2 separate regions of the Homo sapiens genome follow, and region 2 is linked to region 1. The links come from fine-mapping of genetic effects on gene expression. A gene starts in region 1. The other region holds a variant in brackets. All regions are shown on one strand. Distances are from middle to middle.

Evidence for each region. PIP is the estimated chance that this variant, and not a neighbour inherited with it, causes the effect. A credible set is the group of variants that fine-mapping cannot tell apart.
Region 2: its variant is the best candidate, but not a certain one, in a credible set for the expression of HAVCR1 in blood mononuclear cells (TOPMed, PIP 0.58).

The regions. Positions count from the first base shown.
Region 1 is chr5:157,056,706-157,062,084 of GRCh38, forward strand. It overlaps HAVCR1 (hepatitis A virus cellular receptor 1), which reads right to left and starts at 2,411. Exons shown (of 9, transcript NM_001173393.3): 1 at 2,216-2,411; 2 at 1,193-1,250. The coding sequence starts at 1,238.
Region 2 is chr5:157,084,098-157,089,476 of GRCh38, forward strand. HAVCR2 (hepatitis A virus cellular receptor 2) reads right to left here. Exons shown (of 7, transcript NM_032782.5): 6 at 4,844-4,880; 7 at 1,735-3,197. The coding sequence ends at 3,005. Among named protein-coding and RNA genes, the nearest start is that of HAVCR2, 22 kb to the right of the region's middle. The variant G/C (reference allele first, on the strand shown) is at 2,074.

The DNA of each region.
Region 1 (5,379 bases):
CTAATACTAGTATCATTTTTTTGGATTACACATATAATGCATGCTATTACAATTTGGTTATAGAAGTATATAATGAGAGATTATTTTTCCCCCATAATCCCAAAGGCATATATCACTCCAGAAATTTGTGTTTAAAAATTAGGATATGTCTATTTTACTCTTTCCTTATCTCATAGAATGTTTTGAATTAAAGTGTTTATTTCAAAATAAAATACTTAGGCCAGATGTGGTGGCTAACGCCTATAATCCCAGCACTTTGGGAGACTGAGGTGGGAGAATCACTTGAGCCCAGGAGGTCGAGGTTGCAGTGAATCAAGATTGCCCAACTAGGCCAGGCGCGGTGACTCACGCCTATAATTCCAGCACTTTGGGAGGCCGAGGCAGGTGGATCACAAGGTCAGGAGTTCAAGATCAGCTTGGCCAAGATGGGGAAACCTTGTCTCTACTAAAAATACAAAAAAATTAGCTGGTAGTGGTGGCAGGTACCTGTAATCCCAGCTACTTGGGAGACTGAGGCAGAGAATTGCTTGAACCCAGGAGGCGGAGGCTGCAGTGAGCCGAGATCACGCCACTGAACTCTAGCCTGGGCGACAGAGTGAGACTCTGTCTCAAAAAAAAAAAGATTGCCCTACTGCACTCCAGAGTGAGACCTCATGAAGAGAGAGAGAGAGAGAGAGAGAGGAAAGAAAGAAAGAAAGAAAGAAAGAAAGAAAGAAAGAAAGAAAGAAAGAAAGAAAGAAAGAAAGAAAGAAAGAAAGAGAATTGAATGTGGCTGAAAAAAATCGGAAGGCACAAAAAAATACAATAAGGATTAACTCTCCCTCCACCTCCCACCCTCTGCCCCCATCCCACATTACCCACTGTCACTATTTCCTATATACATGTGTCTATGCATATACATCTAACCACACCCTTTTTGTTTAAACACAAAGGGCAGCCTGTGACACACTGTGCTGCATCTTGCCTTGTTCATTTAGCCATGAATGTTGTAATTCACAGCAGTTAAGCAATTTCTTTGGCCTAAAACTTTATTCTGGTCCTGCTCACTAGTTAACTCATAGCCATACAACGGTACCCAAAGAACATCTACATTAATCCACCACCACCATCCCCTCCCCTTCCCCTACCCCATTCTCTGGCTTCTAACCCCCCTCTACTCCCTTCTTCCCGCCCAGGGCACCTACTCACTTACCTGCCAGATGTAGGATGAGGCTTAAGATGACCACTTGAGGATGCATTATGGGATCAGCCTGAAGGAAAATGAGCAGACAGGCTGGTTGGTACCCTCCACCAGATGGTATCTGATCAAGTCTTAAATCTCAGATTGCAACTTATCTTTTCACCCAGTTGGTTGATTCATATGAGCCTGCTCTGCTGGAAATGAGAGAAGACCACATATAACGGCTTCAGAGCTCTGTTAGTTCCCTGCAGCTGAGAGCTCTGTGCCTTCCAAAGGACAGGGAAAGCTGTCCACAGAAACAGCCCCTGACTTCCCAGCTTCTTCCCCACACATAACCGCCAAACTGACTCCTGGTCCTGATACAGGGTATCAGGGGAACAAACAAAAAGGAAACAGGGCCGGGCGCGGTGGCTCAAACCTGTAATCCTAGCACTTTGGGAGGCCAAGGCGGGCAGATCACGAAGTCAGGAGATCGAGACCATCCTGGCTAAAAGGGTGAAACCCCGTCTCTACTAAAAATACAAAAAATTAGCCGGGCGTGGTCACTGGCGCCTGTAGTCCCAGCTACTCGGGAGGCTGAGGCAGGAGAATGGCGTGAACCCGCGGGAGGCGGAGCTTGCGGTGAGCCGAGATCGCGCCACTGCACTCCAGCCTGGGCGACAGAGCAAGACTCCGTCTCAAAAAACAAAACAAAAAAAAAGAAAAGAAAAGGAAACTGGAAGCAGAGAACCAGCGTGGCTCAATGGCAGCACGAGAGCAAATGCCAGCCTTCCAGTGGCAGAGATGCACTTGCTTTTCAGAGTAAACTGGGCCTCTGGTGGACGTGGAGCTTTTCCTACTCAGTGGCCACAACGACTTATCCCTAGCCTTAACAGTCATATTGCCAAGTTTGCCATTAGCAAGAGAAATTGAGAGTGAATGTGAATCACTGTGCCTAACCTTTCATGCTCCTGTACAACATGCTTCAGACTACACCTCCTTACCAAGGGACTTCAAGAGAATGCTTCAGGAAACAGAAGTCTGGAGCAGACTTACGTTCAGATCCAGGCTCTGTCACTCACAATGCTGGGTAACCCTGAGAGTTCCTGAGTTCTCTTCAAACCTCTATTTCCTCAGTTGTAAAATAGCACTAAAAATGCTTCCTCTATCTCCCACCAAGGATTGATATAATAAGCAAAAAGGGCCACGGAAGAACTTGGAAAACTAAACCTACATCATATGCAGTAATAGCACTAGCTGAGGTTTTTGGAGAATACTATATAGCAGGCTCTGTGTCAAGCACCCACATGCGTTAAATCGGGCTGTTGACTTCTGCTGTTAATCATTAAACCATACAAACATGAGTAAGCTTGCCTAGTACTTCATTAACTCCTCTTCTGGTCTAAGAATTCAGTAACTTCCAAGGAGGCAGTGGTGGTCTGTATCTTGCAGCTCATGACAGGGTTCATGGGGAAGTGGATGATCTCAGCATAGTGTTTTGTATGGCAGCGTTTAAAAATTCATTTCTTGACCGGGCATGGTGGCTCGTGCCTGTAACCCCAGCACTTTGGGAGGCCGAGTAGGCCAGTCACCTGAGGTCGGGAGTTCAAGACCAGCCTGGCTAACACGGTGAAACCCCGACTCTACTAAAAATACAAAAATTAGCTGGGGGTGGTGGCGGGCGCCTGTAATCCCAGCTACTTAGGAGGCTGAGGTAGAAGAATTGCTTGAACCTGGAAGGTGGAGGTTGCAGTGAGCCGAGATCAAGCCATTGCACTCTAGCCTGGACAACAAGAACAAAACTCCATCTCAAAAATAAAAATAAAAATTCATTTCTTGCCAGGCACAGTGGCTCACGCCTGTAATCCCAACACTTTGGGAGGCCAAGGCAAGTGGATCACCTGAGGTAAGGAGTTTGAGACCAACCTGGGCAACATAGCAAGACTCCCTCTCTGCAAAAAAAACGAACAAAAAATATAGTCAGGCCTTGTGTACCTGACCGTAGTCCCAGCTACTCAGGAGGCTGAGGCAGGAGGGTTGCTTGAGCCCAGCAGTTGGAGGCTATGATTGTGCCACTGCACACCAGCCGGGGTGACAGAGCAAGACCCTGTTTCTTAAGGAAAAAAAGATTGAAAAAAAAAAGCTAATTCAATTCAACCAGTTATTACTAACATATTGAGCTGATGGGACATGACTCAATATACTAGGGACGTCAAAAATCCAGACTTGTGCAATCGGGCAGGGACATGGGTAAGTAAGCAACTAATGAAATCAGGATAAGTGAGGTAAAGGTAAATATATAATCAGACTACATCATTCCCCCACTTATAACCCTCTCATAACTCTCTCAGAAAAATAATAATAATAATAATAATAATAATTCCTAAATCTTTACTCAAATTACTGAAGCCCTGGTGGTCTGGCCCTGACCTACCCCATAGATTTCTTCTACCACTCTCTCCCCTGCTGACTCAGCCCCAGCTACTAGAGCTTTCTTTCCAACTTGCCTCAACCCTAAGGCCTTTTCCGTGGCTGTGTTCTCCATCTAGCTCCCCAGCCCCACCATTTTCACTTTTTTCCTTTTCATTTTTATCCCGGCTTAAATATGACCTCCCTGGACATTTTTCACAGGTCCTTCAATCTAAAGTAGCCAACCAGTCCCTCTCACTATTATTATCTTGTTTTCCTTAATCCATTTTATCTGTGTGTGCAATATATGTGGTGTCTGTCTCTATTCCCTCCTATAGAGTGCTGCCCGGTAGAATTTTAGTAATGGAGTTATTCTGGTAACGGAGTTATTCTGGAACTGATGAGCCACAGAGAGCCAAGACAGGGATGTGGAGCCAGTGCTCTGAGATGTTACATAACTGTACAATTCCATAGGATTTGAATTTGAATTCCATAGGATCGATTCTGTCTCCAGTAGAATATTGGTTACAGAGTTATTCTGTGTGAGTGTCGTGCACTACAGCAGCCACTAGCCACATATGACTATTGAGCACTTGAAATGTGGCTAAGGCAACCAAGGCATTTTTAATTTTTTTTTTTTCCAAGACAGAGCCTGACTCTGTCACCCAGGCTGGAGTGCAGTGTCACAATCTCAGCTCAGTGCAACCTCCATCTCCTGGGTTTAAGTGATTCTCTTGCCACAGTCTCCTGAGTAGCTGGGACTACAGACACGCGCCACCATGCCTGGCTAATTTTTGTATTTTTAGCAGAGGTGGAGTTTCACCATGTTGGCCAGGCTGGGCTGGAACTCCTGGCCTCAAGTGATACGCTCATCTCAACTTCCAAAAGTGCTGGAATTACAGGTGTGAGCCGCCATGCCTGGCCTAAAAATTTTTATTTAATTTCATTTTAATTAAAATTTCAGATTGCTTGAGCCCAGGAGACAGTCTTCGGGGAGTTGAGATGGCACCACTGCACTCAAGCCTTAGATGACAGAGCTTTCAAAAAAATAAATTAATTAAAAACAAAAAAATAAAATTTAAATTGTCACACATAGTGACTGTGTTGTGTGGCACCCAACTCCAGACCATAAACTCCTTTAAGGCAATTTAAGTGTTGAAGCCAGGCATGGTTGCTCACACCTGTAATCCAAAGGAGGCCGAGGTGGGAGGATCACTTGAGGTCAGGGGTTCCAAACCAGCCTGGCCAACATGGTGAAACCCAACTCTACCAAAAATGCAAAAATTAGCCAGGCGTGGTGGCGGGTGCCTGTAATCCCAGCTACTCAGGAGGCTGAGGCAAGAGAATCGCCTGAACCCGGGAGGCAGAATTTACCCTGAGCGGAGATCATGCCACTGCACTCTGGCCTGGGCCACAGAGTGAGACTTCTCAAAAAAAAAAAAGTTATTAATTGAATAGATAAACAAATGGAAACACAAACCCATAGGGAAAGACCATTCATTTTGATGACGGAATGTGGGGGGTGGGAAGAATTTCTTAAAAAGTGACATGTGAGAAGAATGGGTGGAGGGTGTTTCAACTGGAGGAAATGATGAGCCAGAGAGAGCCAGGACAGGGATGTGGAGCCAAGGCTCTGAGATGTTACATAACTGTACAATTCCATAGGGTTGAATTTTCTGACACAGGACCATCTCCCATGAGAGACGCCTGTGTTCTAAAGACTCCCAAACAATATAGCACAGTGGATTTTTTTAATGAGCTATACAACCTCCAGGGATCACTACTCTTTAGGGCAAACTTCATGACCCCCC
Region 2 (5,379 bases), 27 kb after region 1:
TAGGTATATCTCCTAATGCTATCCCTCCCCCCTTCCCCCACCCCACAACAGTCCCCAGAGTATGATGTTCCCCTTCCTATGTCCATGTGTTCTCATTGTTCAATTCCCATCTATGAGTGAGAACATGCGGTGTTTGGGTTTTTGTCCTTGCAATAGTTTACTGAGAATGATGATTTCCAATTTCATCCATGTCCCTACAAAGGACATGAACTCATCATTTCTTATGGCTGCATAGTATTCCATGGTGTATATGTGCCACATTTTCTTAATCCGGTCTATCATTGTCAGACATTTGGGTTGGTTCCAAGTCTTTGCTATTGTGAATAGTGCCACAATAAACATACGTGTGCATGTGCCTTTATAGCAGCATGATTTATAGTCCTTTGGGTATATACCCAGTAATGGGATGGTGGGGTCAAATGGTATTTCTAGTTCTAGATCCCTGAGGAATTGCCACACTGACTTCCACAAAGGTTGAACTACTTTACAGTCCCACCAACAGTGTAAAAGTGTTCCTATTTCTCCACATCCTCTCCAGCACCTGTTGTTTCCTGACTTTTTAATGATTGCCATTCTAACTGGTGTGAGATGGTATCTCATTGTGGTTTTGATTTGCATTTCTCTGATGGCCAGTGATGATGAGCATTTTCTAATGTGTCTTTTGGCTGCATAAATGTCCTCTTTTGAGAAGTGTCTGTTCATATCCTTTGCCTACTTTTTGATGGGGTTGTTTGTTTTTTTCTTGTAAATTTGTTTGAGTTCAAACAGAGCCAAATCATGAGTGAACTCCCATTCACAATTGCTTCAAAGAGAATAAAATACCTAGGAATCCAACTTACAAGGGACGTAAAGGACCTCTTCAAGGAGAACTACAAACCACTGCTCAATGAAATAAAAGAGGATACAAACAAATGGAAGAACATTCCATGCTCATGGGTAGGAAGAATCAATATGGTGAAAATGGCCATACTGCCCAAGGTAATTTATAGATTCAATGCCATCCCCATCAAGCTACCAATGACTTTCTTCACAGAATTGGAAAAAACTACTTTAAAGTTCATATGGAACCAAAAAAGAGCCCGCATCACCAAGTCAATCCTAAGCCAAAAGAACAAAGCTGGAGGCATCACGCTACCTGACTTCAAACTATACTACAAGTCTACAGTAATCAAAACAGCATGGTACTGGTACCAAAACAGAGATATAGATCAATGGAACAGAACAGAGCCCTCAGAAATAATGCCGCATATCTACAACTATCTGATCTTTGACAAACCTGAGAAAAACAAGCAATGGGGAAAGGATTCCCTATTTAATAAATGGTGCTGGGAAAACTGGCTAGCCATATGTAGAAAGCTGAAACTGGATCCCTTCCTTACACCTTATACAAAAATTAATTCAAGATGGATTAAAGACTTAAACGTTAGACCTAAAACCCTAAAAACCCTAGAAGAAAACCTAGACATTACCATTCAGGACATAGGCATGGGCAAGGACTTCATGTCTAAAACACCAAAAGCAATGGCCACAAAAGCCAAAATTGACAAATGGGATCTAATTAAACTAAAGAGCTTCTGCACAGCAAAAGAAACTACCATCAGAGTGAACAGGCAACCTATAAAATGGGAGAAAATTTTCGCAACCTACTCATCTGACAAAGGGCTAATATCCAGAATCTACAATGAACTCAGACAGAGCGAGATTCTATCTCAAAAAACAAACAAACAAACAAAAAACAGTAAAAAAAAATTTTTAGTAAGTTCCAATTGTGTGTCAGAATTGTGCTAGGCGCAGGGGGCAACAATAAGCAAGACAGATCAAGCCTATACCGTCTTGAAATTTAAGTTTAGGGACCACTCTCTGTCAAAGGATCCAGCGCTGGTAATATAGATTGCTGAAGGCCTTTGCCTTCTTTCCACCAGGCAACAGAATTTGTGTCCCCGTCACTGCTTCTTCTTCTGTGAAAAATATAGCTTCAGTTTGGTCCACGAATACAGAAGTTGGTCAGAGATATTTTCTTTCAAGCACACAACAAGCAAAACTTGGCCAATACACACCAATCAAATGCACTTC[G/C]TTTTTCCCTGGGAGCTCCTGCCACATCTCAGCCCTGCAGGGCAGTCTTCATAAGGGAGACAAAAGAAGGGCTATGCACTGGCACTGACAGTTGGGCAGGCAGTGCTCAAATAAGCCTAAATCTCAACATTCCAAGGGAATCTTCAAGATCAAGGTAGACCTGGTCCAGTCATCTCTTAATCTTTTAAGGATCACTGGCTGGATGTGGTGGCTCACGCCTGTAATCCCAGTGCTTTGGGAGGCCGAGGCAGGCAAATCATGAGGTCAGGAGTTTGAGACCACACTGGCCAACATGGTGAAACCCTGTCTCTACTAAAAATACAACAAATTAGCTGGGCATGGTGGTGCATGCCTGTAATCCCAGCCACTCAGGAGGCTGAGGCAGGAGAATCGCTTGAACCCAGGAGGCGGAGCTTGCAGTGAGCCGAGATTGTGCCATTGCACTCCAGCCTGGGCAACAGAGCAAGACTCCATCTCAAAAACAAAAAACAAAAAGGGATCACAGATCTCTTTGAAAATCAGTGGCCCCTTTAGACTTTCTGTGCCAAAAAAGTTATGCTTTCACCTCAGCACCCAGTTTTCCCTAGTTTATCTGAAGTTTCATGGACATATGATGTGCCCGAATTTCCTGGAGCTCCAGAGACCCCACGTCAAGAATTCCTAGTGTATATAAAAGCCCGTTTGAGCTCTAACATCCATGATTAACAGTCTCTGGGTTGGGTAACTCTGTTGGCTTAAATACAGAGGCAATGACATGCCTGTTTAAGTTCAGTGCAGGTCCCAGTTCAATTCCCATGTGAGTCATTATCTTCTGAAAATGGGAAAACTCTGCTCCATAGCAGTGGACAGAACCTCCAAAACCAGTCAGGTGACACAGCTCATAGTTTCTGAAAAAGACAAAACACCAAGCTCAAAAATAAGGTGGTTGGATCTATGGCATTGCAAAGCGACAACCCAAAGGTTGTGAGGGTTGCTGCCTGCTGCTGACATAGCAATAATACTCATTGGGCTCCTCCACTTCATATACGTTCTCTTCAATGGTATAGATGTTTTCTTCTGAGCGAATTCCCTCTGCTACTGCATTTGCCAATCCTGAGGGAGGGAGGTTGGCCAAAGAGATGAGGCTGTGGAAATAAAGTGTTGCGGTTGAGTTAAGCATTTCCCAGGTAACACGGAATAGAGTTAAGAGAATAGGCTTTCCCAAAGAGACAGCAACTAAATATAGTGCATGATCTTTGATCAGATGCTGAACAAGTGGAAAAGCCAAGAAATAGCAATAAAATACTATGGGGAAACAATTGAGAAAATGTCCATTAATTTTAATTTTCTTAGGTATAACAACAGCATTGTGATAGCTAAGAGAATATTTTTATTTCTCGGAGGTGCAGGCTGAAGTTTAGGTGAAGTATCAAGATGTCTGCAATTATGTACACATTTAGATTTTCAAAAAATGGGCCGGGCGCCGTGGCTCACGCCTGTAATCCCAGCACTTTGGGAGGCTGAGCCTGGCAGATCACGAGGTCAGGAGTTCGAGACCAGCCTGGCCAACATAGTGAAACCCCGTCTCTACTAAACATACAAAAAATTAGCCAGCGTGGTGGCATGCACCTGTAATCCCAGCTACTTGGGAGGCTAATGCAGAGAATCGCTTGAACCCGAGAAGCAGAGGTTATAGTGAGCCGAGGTTGTGCCACTGCACTCCAGCCTGGGTGACAGAGCCAGACTCCGTCTCAAAAAAAAAAAAAAAAAATTATTAATGCTTTAGATAGCATTCAATGGACAGAGGTTTTTGTTTTGTTTTGTTTGATGCTGGGTCTTTCTCTGTCACCCAGGTGGGAATGCAGTGGCACAATCATGGCTCATTGCAGCCTTCATCTCCTGTGCTCCAGCAATCCTTCCACCTAATGTTTCCATTTTTTTGTAGAGAAGAGGTCTCATCATGTTGCCCAGGCTGGTCTTGAACTCCTGGGCTCATGTGATCCTCCCACCTCAGCCTCCCAAAGTGCTGGGCTTATAGGCGTAAGCCACAGCACCTAGCCCAGAATCATTTTTGTAATCCAAATATATTGTATTCCATTCATGTGCCAAACATCACTAAAAGTCTAAAATCTAGTAAGTTATGTAAGCCATACCTATTTGAAATGGATGTGTGGGTGTGTATAATCAGGAACGAAGGTCAAGACAGGAGTCTATAACAGACTAGCAGTTCTCAGCCCTGACTGTTCACTAGAATCACCTGGAGAGCTTTTAGAACAATTTCTATGCTTAGGCTTCATCCCCAGAGATTCTGATTCAGTTGCTCTGGGGTTGGCCCTGCATTAGTACACTTCAGTGCCTGGGTGATTCTAATAGGAAACTAAAGTTGAAAATGCCTGGGCTGTTTACAGAAATGCTGAGAACAGATACTGGGTTTCTTGCTCACTTCTGTAACGCCTAAGTGCAGCCCAGACCCTGGATATAATAGGAGCTCAATCCGTTGATGTTTCAGTTCAGTGGAAAAACCATTAATATCGAGATGAATAAGCATGTTGTATTATTAGGGTGATAAATTCTATACCTTAACTTTAGAACTAAAGAAGCTAGAGGTGTCAGGAAGTACACACAGTAGCATGTTACATTTTCACTTCATAACTAGACCTAGAGAAAGAAGGAAGTATAAACTCAGATCTCAAAGCCCCAGGACAGGATTTCTCAGAGAAAAGATCAGACATGTTAGAGTAGGGACTTCCAAGATTCTCACCTTTTCCCAACCCCATTCCATTATTCTTACCTTAAATTCTGTATCTTCTCTTTGCTATGAGAATACCCTAGTAAGGGGGAAACAAAAGCCAATAAAAATGCATTCATAAAATAAATGAGACAAGAAATCAAATAGGTTCACTGGAAGCACGCATAGTTTAGGGAAATCTGGTCTCATCTCAGATTGAGTTAAATGAAACTCTCAACGTGTGCCTTAGATAGTTATATGGACTGTGTTAGAAAATAATAATAAAGATGCATTTTTCTTATTTAACAAATATTATGAGACCTCTACTATGTGTCTGGCAGTTTGCCTGGCACAAGGAACACAGGAACATAAAAGTGAATTGTGAGCCCTAATTTCACGAAGCTCACGCTCTCCTGTGGGAGACCAAAGAAATAAAAGAAAACAGTACCCCAGACCCAAGACCAGCCTGACCAACATGGAGAAACCCCGTCTCTACTAAAAATACAAAATTAGCTGGATGTGGTGGCCCATGCCTGTAATCCCAGCTACTCGGGAGGCTGAGGCAGGAGAATCACATGAACCCGGGAGACGGAGGTTGC